3 separate regions of the Homo sapiens genome follow, and all the other regions are linked to region 3. The links come from fine-mapping of genetic effects on gene expression. A gene starts in region 3. Each other region holds a variant in brackets. All regions are shown on one strand. Distances are between the middles of the regions.

Region 1 (2,852 bases), 75 kb after region 3:
GAGGCATTTTCCCCATTGTCTTGGCTATGAACATTTGGCTCCTCTTTACTTATGCAAATTTCTGCAGCCAGCTTGGGCTTAAATTCCTCCGCTGAAAATGAGTTTTTCTTTTCTACCACATAGCCAGGCTGCAATTTTCCACACTTTCATGCTCTGCTTCCTTTTAAATATAAGTTCAAGTTTCAATTCATTTCAGTGCTTATGCAAATGAGCATAAGCTTTTAGAAGCAGCCAGGCCACAGCTTGAATGCTTTGTTACTTAGAAATTTCTTCCGCCTGGCCAGACACGGTGGCTCATGCCTATAATCTCAGCATTTTGGGAGGCTAAGGTGGGTAGGTCGCTTTGAGCTCAGGAGTTTGAGACCAGCCTGGGCAACACAGCAAAATCCTTTCTCTATAAAGAATATAAAAATTAGCTCTGTGTGATGGTGTGAACCTGTAGGCCCAGCTATTTGGGAGGCTGAGGCTGGAGAATTGCTTGAGCCTGGGAAGCAGAGGTTGCAGTGACTGAGATCACGCAACTGCATGCTAGCCTGGGTGACAGAGTGAGACCCTGTCTTATAAAAAAAAATTTCTTTTGCCAGATAACGTAAATCATCTCTGTCAAGTTCAAAGTTCCACAGGTCTCTAGAGCAGGGGCACAATGCCACCAGTCTCTTTGCTAAAGCAGAACAAGAGTGACCTTTATCCCAGTTCCCAATAAGTTCCTCATCTCCATTTGAGACCTCCTCAGTCCAGACTTCACTGTCCATATCTGTATTAGTCCATTCTCACACTACTATAAAGATACAACCTGAGACTAGGTAATTTATAAAGGAAAGAGGTTTAATTGACTCACAGTTCTGCAGGCTTAGCAGGAAGCATGGTTAGGAGGCCTCAGGAAACTTACAATCATGGTGGAGGACTAAGGGAAAGCAAGCACATCTTACATGGTGGCAGGCAAGAAGCATGAGAGCCATGGAAACGTCTACTTATAAAACCATCAGATCTCGTAAGAACTCACTATCATGAGAAAAGCATGGGGGAACCACCCCCATCATCCAGTCACCTCCCACCAGGTCCTTTCCTCAACACATGGGGATTACAATTTGGATTACAATTCAAGATAAGATTTGGGTGGGGACACAGAGCCAAACCATATCATTCTGCCCTGTCCTTTCCCAAATCTCATGTCCTAACATTCCAAAACCAATCATGCCTTCCCAACAATACTCCGAAGTCTTAATTCATTCCAGCATTAACTCAAAAGTCCAAATCCATAGTCTCATCTAGTAAAACCAAAAACAAGTTAGTTACTTCCAAGATACAGTTGGGGTACAGGCATTGGTTAAATGTTCCCATTCCAAATGAGAGAAATTGGCCAAAATAAAGGAGCTACAAGACCCATGCAAGTTCAAAACCCAGAGTGTCTGTGGCTTTTTCAG[T/G]TACACAGTGCAAGCTGTCAGTGGGTCTGGGGTCTGGAGGATGGTGGCCCTCTTGTCACAGCTGCACTAGGAAGTGCCCCAGTGGGGACTCTGCATGGGGGCTGCAACCCCACATTTCTCTTCGGCACTGACCTAGCAGAGGTTCTCCATGAGGGCTCCACTCCTGCAGCAGACTTCTGCCTGGACTTCCAGGCATTTCCATACATCCTCTAAAATATAGTTGGAGGTTCCCAAACCTCAGCTCTTGCCTTCTGTGCATCCACAGGCCCAACACCATGTGGAAACTGCCAAGGCTTGGGGCTTGCACCCTCTGAAGCAATGCTAAGCCATACCTTGGCCCCTTTTAGCCACTGCTAAGGCTGGAGTGGCTGGGACATGGAGCACCAAGTCCCGAGGCTGCACAAAGCAGCAGGTCCCTGGCCTGGCGCACAAAACCATTTTTCCCTCTTAGGCCTCCAGGCCTGTGACGGGAGAAGCTTCCCAGTAGGTTTCTGACATGCCTTGGAGACATTTTCCCCATTGTCTTGGCTATTAACATTTGGCTCCTCATTACGTATGTAAATTTCTGCAGCCATCTTGACTTTCTTTCCAGAAAATGGGTTTTACTTTTATACCACATGGTCAGACTGCAAATTTTCCAAACTTTTATGTTCTGATTTCCTTTTAAACATAAGTTCCTCATCTCCATCTGAGACCAGCTCAACCTGGACTTCATTGTACATATCACTATCAACATTTTGGTCAAAACCATTCAGTAAGTCTCTAGGAAGCTCCAAACTTTCCCACATCTTCCTGTCTTCTTCTGAGCTCTCCAAACTGTTCCAACCTCTGCCCATTACCCAGTTCCAAAGTTGCTTCCACACTTTCAGGTTATCTTTATAGCAGTACCCTATTCTACCAGTACCCATTTACTGTATTAGTCCATTATCCCATTGCTTTAAAGATACTACCTGAGACTGGGTAATTTATAAAGGAAAGAGGTTTAATTCAGTCACAGTTCTGCAGGATTAATAGGAAGCATGGATAGGAGGCCTTAGGAAACTTATAATCATGGCAGAAGGGGAAGGGGAAGCAAGCACGTCTTACGTGGGGGCAGGTGAGAGATGCAAGAGCAGGGGAAGCTTCTACTTATAAAACCATCAAGTCTTGTGAGAACTCACTATTATGAGAACAAGATTGAACCATGGGCCAGGCATAGTGGTTCATGCTTGTAATCCCAGTACTTTGAGAGGCCAAGGTGGGTGGATCACTTGAGGCCAGGAGTTCGAGACCAACCTGGCCAACATGGTGAAATCCTGTCTCTACTAAAAGTACAAAAAATTAGCCAGGCATGGTGGCACGTGCCTGTAACCCCAACTACTTGGGTGGCTGAGGCACAATAATTGCTTGAGCCTAGGAGGTGGAGGTTGCAGTGAGCTGAGACCACAC
Region 2 (2,852 bases), 310 kb after region 3:
AAAGTGAGCTGGATGAGTTAGGATTGCTCGGGAGGTGTCTCCTTCACACAAGGGAAGGAGGAGGGAGGGAGGTCTCCAATGTGGGGACCACAGAGGCAAGAGAGTTCATGAAAAGTCAGGTCTAGATGTCCTTGGGGTATCTCATTGTGTCCCTGAGCAACAGTAGCCTGAGGGAAAGGGGGCTTAGTGACCATGACACATGTCCCAAGAACAAGGGGACCCTTTTCCAAAGATTCTTCCAGGAACTGGGATGATCCCAGGCTCTAAACAAATCAGACTGATGACCCCAAGAAATGAGAGACAGCCAACTGTCACTCTGATGTTGCTACCAACCTCCCTCTCTCATTTCCTTCTCTGTAAGACACAACCTCCCTCTCCCATTTCCTTCTCTGTAAGACACAAGTGGTGAGGATGACATTGGCAGACAGCATCAGACAAGTTAAGTGGGGGAATTAGGAAAGAATGCTTGTCAACACCAGATGCTATATAAATGCGGCAGAAGGGCATGGGCCCGACCAGGGCCCCCATTAGTCATGCTCAACCACCTCCAAATCACTCCTCTTCCAGAAGCCAAAGGACGAAAGAAAAGGCAAGTTCCCTCAAGGCAAAGGTGATGAGAGCCACACTCTCAACTTCAGCGATTCATCCTGTATAGATGAAAGAAGCTTCCTCTAGGAGCTGGCAAGGAGCTATGGTGTTTCACTGACCTTCTCTGATACATACACCCAACTCCCTTGAGAGGAAAGCATGTGATGATTGCTTTTAAAGGAAGGAAATCTGAGAGGGGCTAAAGAGACAAGCCTATGGCCACACAGCAAAAGCAGAATGGGGAATGCAGCCAACCTGTTCAGTTCTGAGCCCAGTGGCCTCACTCAGCAATTAGTCCAAGCCACTTTTTCATTTCTCTTCACTTGAATTTTCATCTTTAAGCATTTCCCCTTCTCTACTAGCAAGGGTATCAAATGTACAAGGAAAATGATGTCATTTTGCAAAGGTCAGGAGGAAAAGTTAGCACTATTCTGAGTTGTCCAGATGTAAGATATCATTGTTGCTATTACTGCTACCACCAGACCCTAGGGATGCCACAGGATGCCAAGTGAAGAGGATCCGCCAAAGCCTCTCAGAAATAACATACAGATAACTGAGGTATCTACTCAGCCTCCTGGCAGCAGTCTGGATCCCCAAGAGGGTCAAAAGGGGATAATCCGAATCAGCGGTAGGAGCTGAAGAATCCAAGAAGCAGGGGCAGAGAGCAGTATCTGTTCCTATTACCATCTTCCATGAAGTTAGCA[C/T]CTGCCAAGAGCAGAAGGAACGTGTCTTTGTGCAAAGGGAAGGCAGAGGAAAGGGGGGCCGGCTACTGCCACTCAAGTGGCTTCATCCACAGCTCCAGGGCCTGCTCCCGACCAGGACCACAGAACAAGGGAACCTGAGCGAATAGAAAGCCACTGAGACCTGCTACTACTATACAGATCCTTAGCCCATCTCCAACCTTGCCCCACTGAGAGAGTGCAGCAGTCAGGGGCCCATCAGAGACCAGGTGTGTAGGAGCTGAGAGATGGTAACTGTTCCTTCTTCATGGATGCTCACAGTAGCACCTTTGGATAGCCCTGCTTTTGCTTCTTTCAGGTACAATTATTTCCTTAGCAAAGACCCAGGCTTGCTTTATCTTTCCCCACAGTGGACAAGTAAGGATGGCACTCAACCTCTCACTCAATGGCAGGTGACCATCATTCAGTTACACTACATCAGTTACACTACATCTAGAAAGATGGCTGCAACCTACCACAATGGCAAAAGTTAAAAATGAGCAAAGGAAAAATCTCTGCTTCATACCACAGAGCACTGTGTATAGGCAGCATGGTTTGGAGGGCCACAAGAGGGCCATTTAGTGGAGCCAAGGATATACAGATGTGCTCATGGTTTAGCCTGAGGTTATGGAGGGCCCGGGGGAAGGAGGCCACAGAACAGACTTTTTTTTTTTTTTTTTTTTTTTTTGAGACAGAGTTTCTCTCTTGTTGCCCAGGCTGGAGTGCAATGGCGCAATCTTGGCTCACTGCAACCTCCGCCTCCCAGGTTCAAGCGATTCTCCTGCCTCAGCCTTGCGAGTAGCTGGGATTACAGGCACGTGCCACCATGCCTGGCTAATTTTTTTGTATTTTTAGTAGAGACAGGATATCTCCATGTTGGTCAGGCTGGTCTCGAACTCCCGACCTCAGGTGATCCACCTGCCTCTGCCTCCCAAAGCGCTGGGATTACAGGCGTGAGCCACCGCGCCCTGTCAGAACAAACTTTGTATGTACTTCTCCCCATCAAGAATGAAGAAGAATCACTTGGTTGGCTGGAACTGCTGGTAAGATTCACATTTTTTCCTCCTAGCTCAGGAGTAGGGGAATGGGGACAAAAACAGTATCTTACATATTGGCTTCACTGAACAAAGAGAAGGACACAGAAGAGAAGCAATAACAAAACCTTGGGCAATAAAACCAGTAGCGCCTTCCCGTCCAAGACTTGGTGGGCCCCTTGAACCAAAGTGCTAATGGGCTCATAAAGCAAGGAACAAGGTCACCCCTTTAGTGACCCCAAGGCAGGACATCTATCCCAGTTATAGAGAAAGAGCAGTGACCAATTCATCACTGTTGCCAGCTGCACATCCAGGCAGCAAATGCAAGGAACCTGCTGAGTGACCTCCAAGACAAAAGACAGTGGAGCAGCATTCAGAGAGTCTTGAGGGAAGAGGGGAATGACCTTGAGACTCTACTCCCAATCAAGTCGTCATTCCCACATAAAGACAACTGTTCACACATAACACAGGAGGCCTCAGAGTAGTGGCATGGAGAAGACATACACGAGAA
Region 3 (2,500 bases):
CACAAAGTATGGATAATTCTGAAAGTTATATTTTATAAAGAATAATCTATCCATGATTAAGCTACTGCAGAACTGCAGATGAGAAAAGGTGATGGACTGTCCTAGGTAGTGGCAAGGGAAACAGGAGTGAAAGAATTTCAGGAACATTTCAGAGATGGAGCTCAGAGTACTTGATGATTTATTAGAGACTCTTGGAATACAGTATTAGTAGGATTTACTGTGTCAGTTTAGCTATTTATCCATTAACAGTAACAATAGTAGGAAACACATACTGTTTACCATAGGTCAAGCAATGTTGTAAACATTTTACATGGATTAACTCATTTCATTCTCACAACACTATGAAGTATATTTATAACCATCCCCATTTTAGAGATGATAAACTAAGGCTTACATCAGTTAAGTTAGCCAATAAGTATCAAGAATCAGTAAGAGGTTAGATACAAGATTTAGACCCAGATACTGTAATTCCAAAGCTAAAGAGCTCTTAATTGATCAACTAAATAGTTGTAAAGGAAAGTAAACAAAGTCGAAAGCAGGCAGAATGTAGTAATGTCAAGAGCCCGGTTTAATGAAGAGCCACAGTGGGGGAAGAGGATAGCAGTTTGGCTGCTCAAAATCACATGAGGTGTTCATAAAAAATAAATAAATAAATAAAATAAATCTGTATTAAATCCAAATCCCTGCAGATGGGAGATAAGATTTAACTTTTTATTTTCTTTTTTTTTTTTTTTTTTAAAGCCCTGGGTAATTTTGTGGCGGAACCAAGTTTGGGAACCTGTGTAATAAAAGATTTCTAAGGGCTCTTCCTGCTTTAACATTCTAGTTGACATTGTAAATGAAGTTCCCAGAAATCAAAGGAGCGAGGGAGGGATCCTAGCTGCAGGAAAACGGCTATGCATTCAGAGTCCACACCGTTTATGCTCCCATTTTACTAAACGGTCCCTCATAGGGGGAGGGATAGAACAGGCAACGGAAAGAAGGATGTGGTATCCACGATAAGCAGGCTAAAAAAGCAGGCTTTTAAAAAGGCTTTTCTAGCACGATTTGCACAAAGAACCCCTTCTTGACTATATATATTTGTGTTCATCCAACTGGATTTTGAGGTGGATTCCTCAGACCCGTATCTGGCTAATGATGGATTTCAATATATTTTCTCTAAGCACCCCGAAGCGTTGCACGAAACCTCTAGGTTGTGGCCTGCCCGCCCCGAGGCCAGGTGAATCCGGCTCAGCAGCAGAGGTGTCTGCAATTACACCCTCTAATCCCCTACTGTCAGATATGACCCTTTCCGCACATACCTGAGGGCCCTCTGGTAAGATTGATCTCTTCCTCAGTGACCAAATAATCCACTCTTCCGTTCATGTTTTACAGCTCGTCTGGCTTCCTACTTGGGTCAGCTGGAGTGCAGCACAGGTGAAGGTGAATCAATCTCGGCGCTGCGCCCACAGCACAGCGGTTTCGGTTTCAGCAGCCTCGAGACCCGGAAAAGGAAGCCCGAAGGACTCGGAGCACTGGGAATGCTGGGAATCGTGGTTCCTACCGCCAATGGATTGCAGTTTCTCACCGGTTCCCAAAGCCAAGCATGAGGTGAGCAAGGGGCAAGTTACCATTCTAATTTGCCATTGGAAGCAAGTGGGAAGGGGGTGGCTAGTAAAAGTAAGGGACCTAAATAAATTGATATTGTCGAGAAAAAAAATTTTAAAAAAATCTCCTGCCATCCTAGAAAATCTCCACAAATGTAGAAAAGAAAAAAAAGGTGTATTATTCTGTAAGCATCGAACCAGACCGGAATGGGTGTTACAGGCAATCCACTAATGAGATTGCAAAGAGAGACAAAAATCTCACATTTTATGTAGCCAAAGCACACGCATCTTCTCATGTAAGACGAGTTAACATGGTTTGGTATTCAATTTTTGGTAGTTCACCGTTGGAGTGGCCGCCTGTGTTGGTTAATTGCCTTTATCCAAAGGAAAAATAAAACGTTATCTCTGTGACAAACAGGTACTTACGGCTTGGAGCAAGGCGCTTCGGGTAACTCCCGCGAGCCTGGAACATAGGGGCACTGTCTACCTTGATACTTAAATTTCAAGGAGTTGGCTCCCGGGACCTGACGAAAACAATTCCTGGGTTTTATCTGACAAGAGGCTTATTTAGCTTTTAAAAAGATACACACACACACACACACTACACACGGATTATAATTACAATTTGCTCAAGAAAATGTTTTAAGAAAGGGGGGTGGGGGAATGTCTCATTCTTTTGGCAACTGGGAAAATTCAATCTTTTTAATGTTTTAACTCTTACAATAAGGTTAACGCATGGCTTAGGTATAACTTTAGGCCAGTCTTCCTGACTTTTGGAATGAGACATTCCAAACTGAACTTGAATGAAACTTCAGGGGTCAAAAACACAAAAGCCTAAAGAGCCAGGAAGGTGACAACCTTGTGAAGCAACCTGGAGTTAGACCACAGGGATTGGTGGGGATCTTAGAGGACTA

Alleles and levels. Alleles are on the strand shown, and positions count from the first base shown. SD is a standard deviation of normalised expression in the study named. Not every link is listed here.
For the expression in breast of the gene that starts at base 1,492 in region 3, G is the low allele of the variant in region 1 and T is the other (small effect, 0.23 SD a copy in GTEx).

Evidence for each region. PIP is the estimated chance that this variant, and not a neighbour inherited with it, causes the effect.
Region 1: its variant is the best candidate, but not a certain one, in a credible set for the expression of SYNJ2BP in breast (GTEx, PIP 0.84).
Region 2: its variant is the best candidate, but not a certain one, in a credible set for the expression of SYNJ2BP in whole blood (TOPMed, PIP 0.61).

The regions. Positions count from the first base shown.
Region 1 is chr14:70,489,968-70,492,819 of GRCh38, forward strand. No RefSeq gene overlaps it. Among named protein-coding and RNA genes, the nearest start is that of ADAM21, 39 kb to the left of the region's middle. The variant T/G (reference allele first, on the strand shown) is at 1,425.
Region 2 is chr14:70,726,144-70,728,995 of GRCh38, forward strand. MAP3K9 (mitogen-activated protein kinase kinase kinase 9) reads right to left here. Exons shown (of 12, transcript NM_001284230.2): 12 at 1-2,852. Among named protein-coding and RNA genes, the nearest start is that of LINC01269, 29 kb to the left of the region's middle. The variant C/T (reference allele first, on the strand shown) is at 1,293.
Region 3 is chr14:70,415,599-70,418,098 of GRCh38, forward strand. It overlaps SYNJ2BP (synaptojanin 2 binding protein), which reads right to left and starts at 1,492. Exons shown (of 4, transcript NM_018373.3): 1 at 1,302-1,492. The coding sequence starts at 1,365. SYNJ2BP-COX16 (SYNJ2BP-COX16 readthrough) reads right to left here and starts at 1,492. Exons shown (of 5, transcript NM_001202549.2): 1 at 1,302-1,492. The coding sequence starts at 1,365. It overlaps LOC124903339 (a long non-coding RNA gene), which reads left to right and starts at 1,487. Exons shown (of 2, transcript XR_007064237.1): 1 at 1,487-1,590. RefSeq lists enhancers at 1,268-1,347, 1,279-2,478, 1,458-1,567.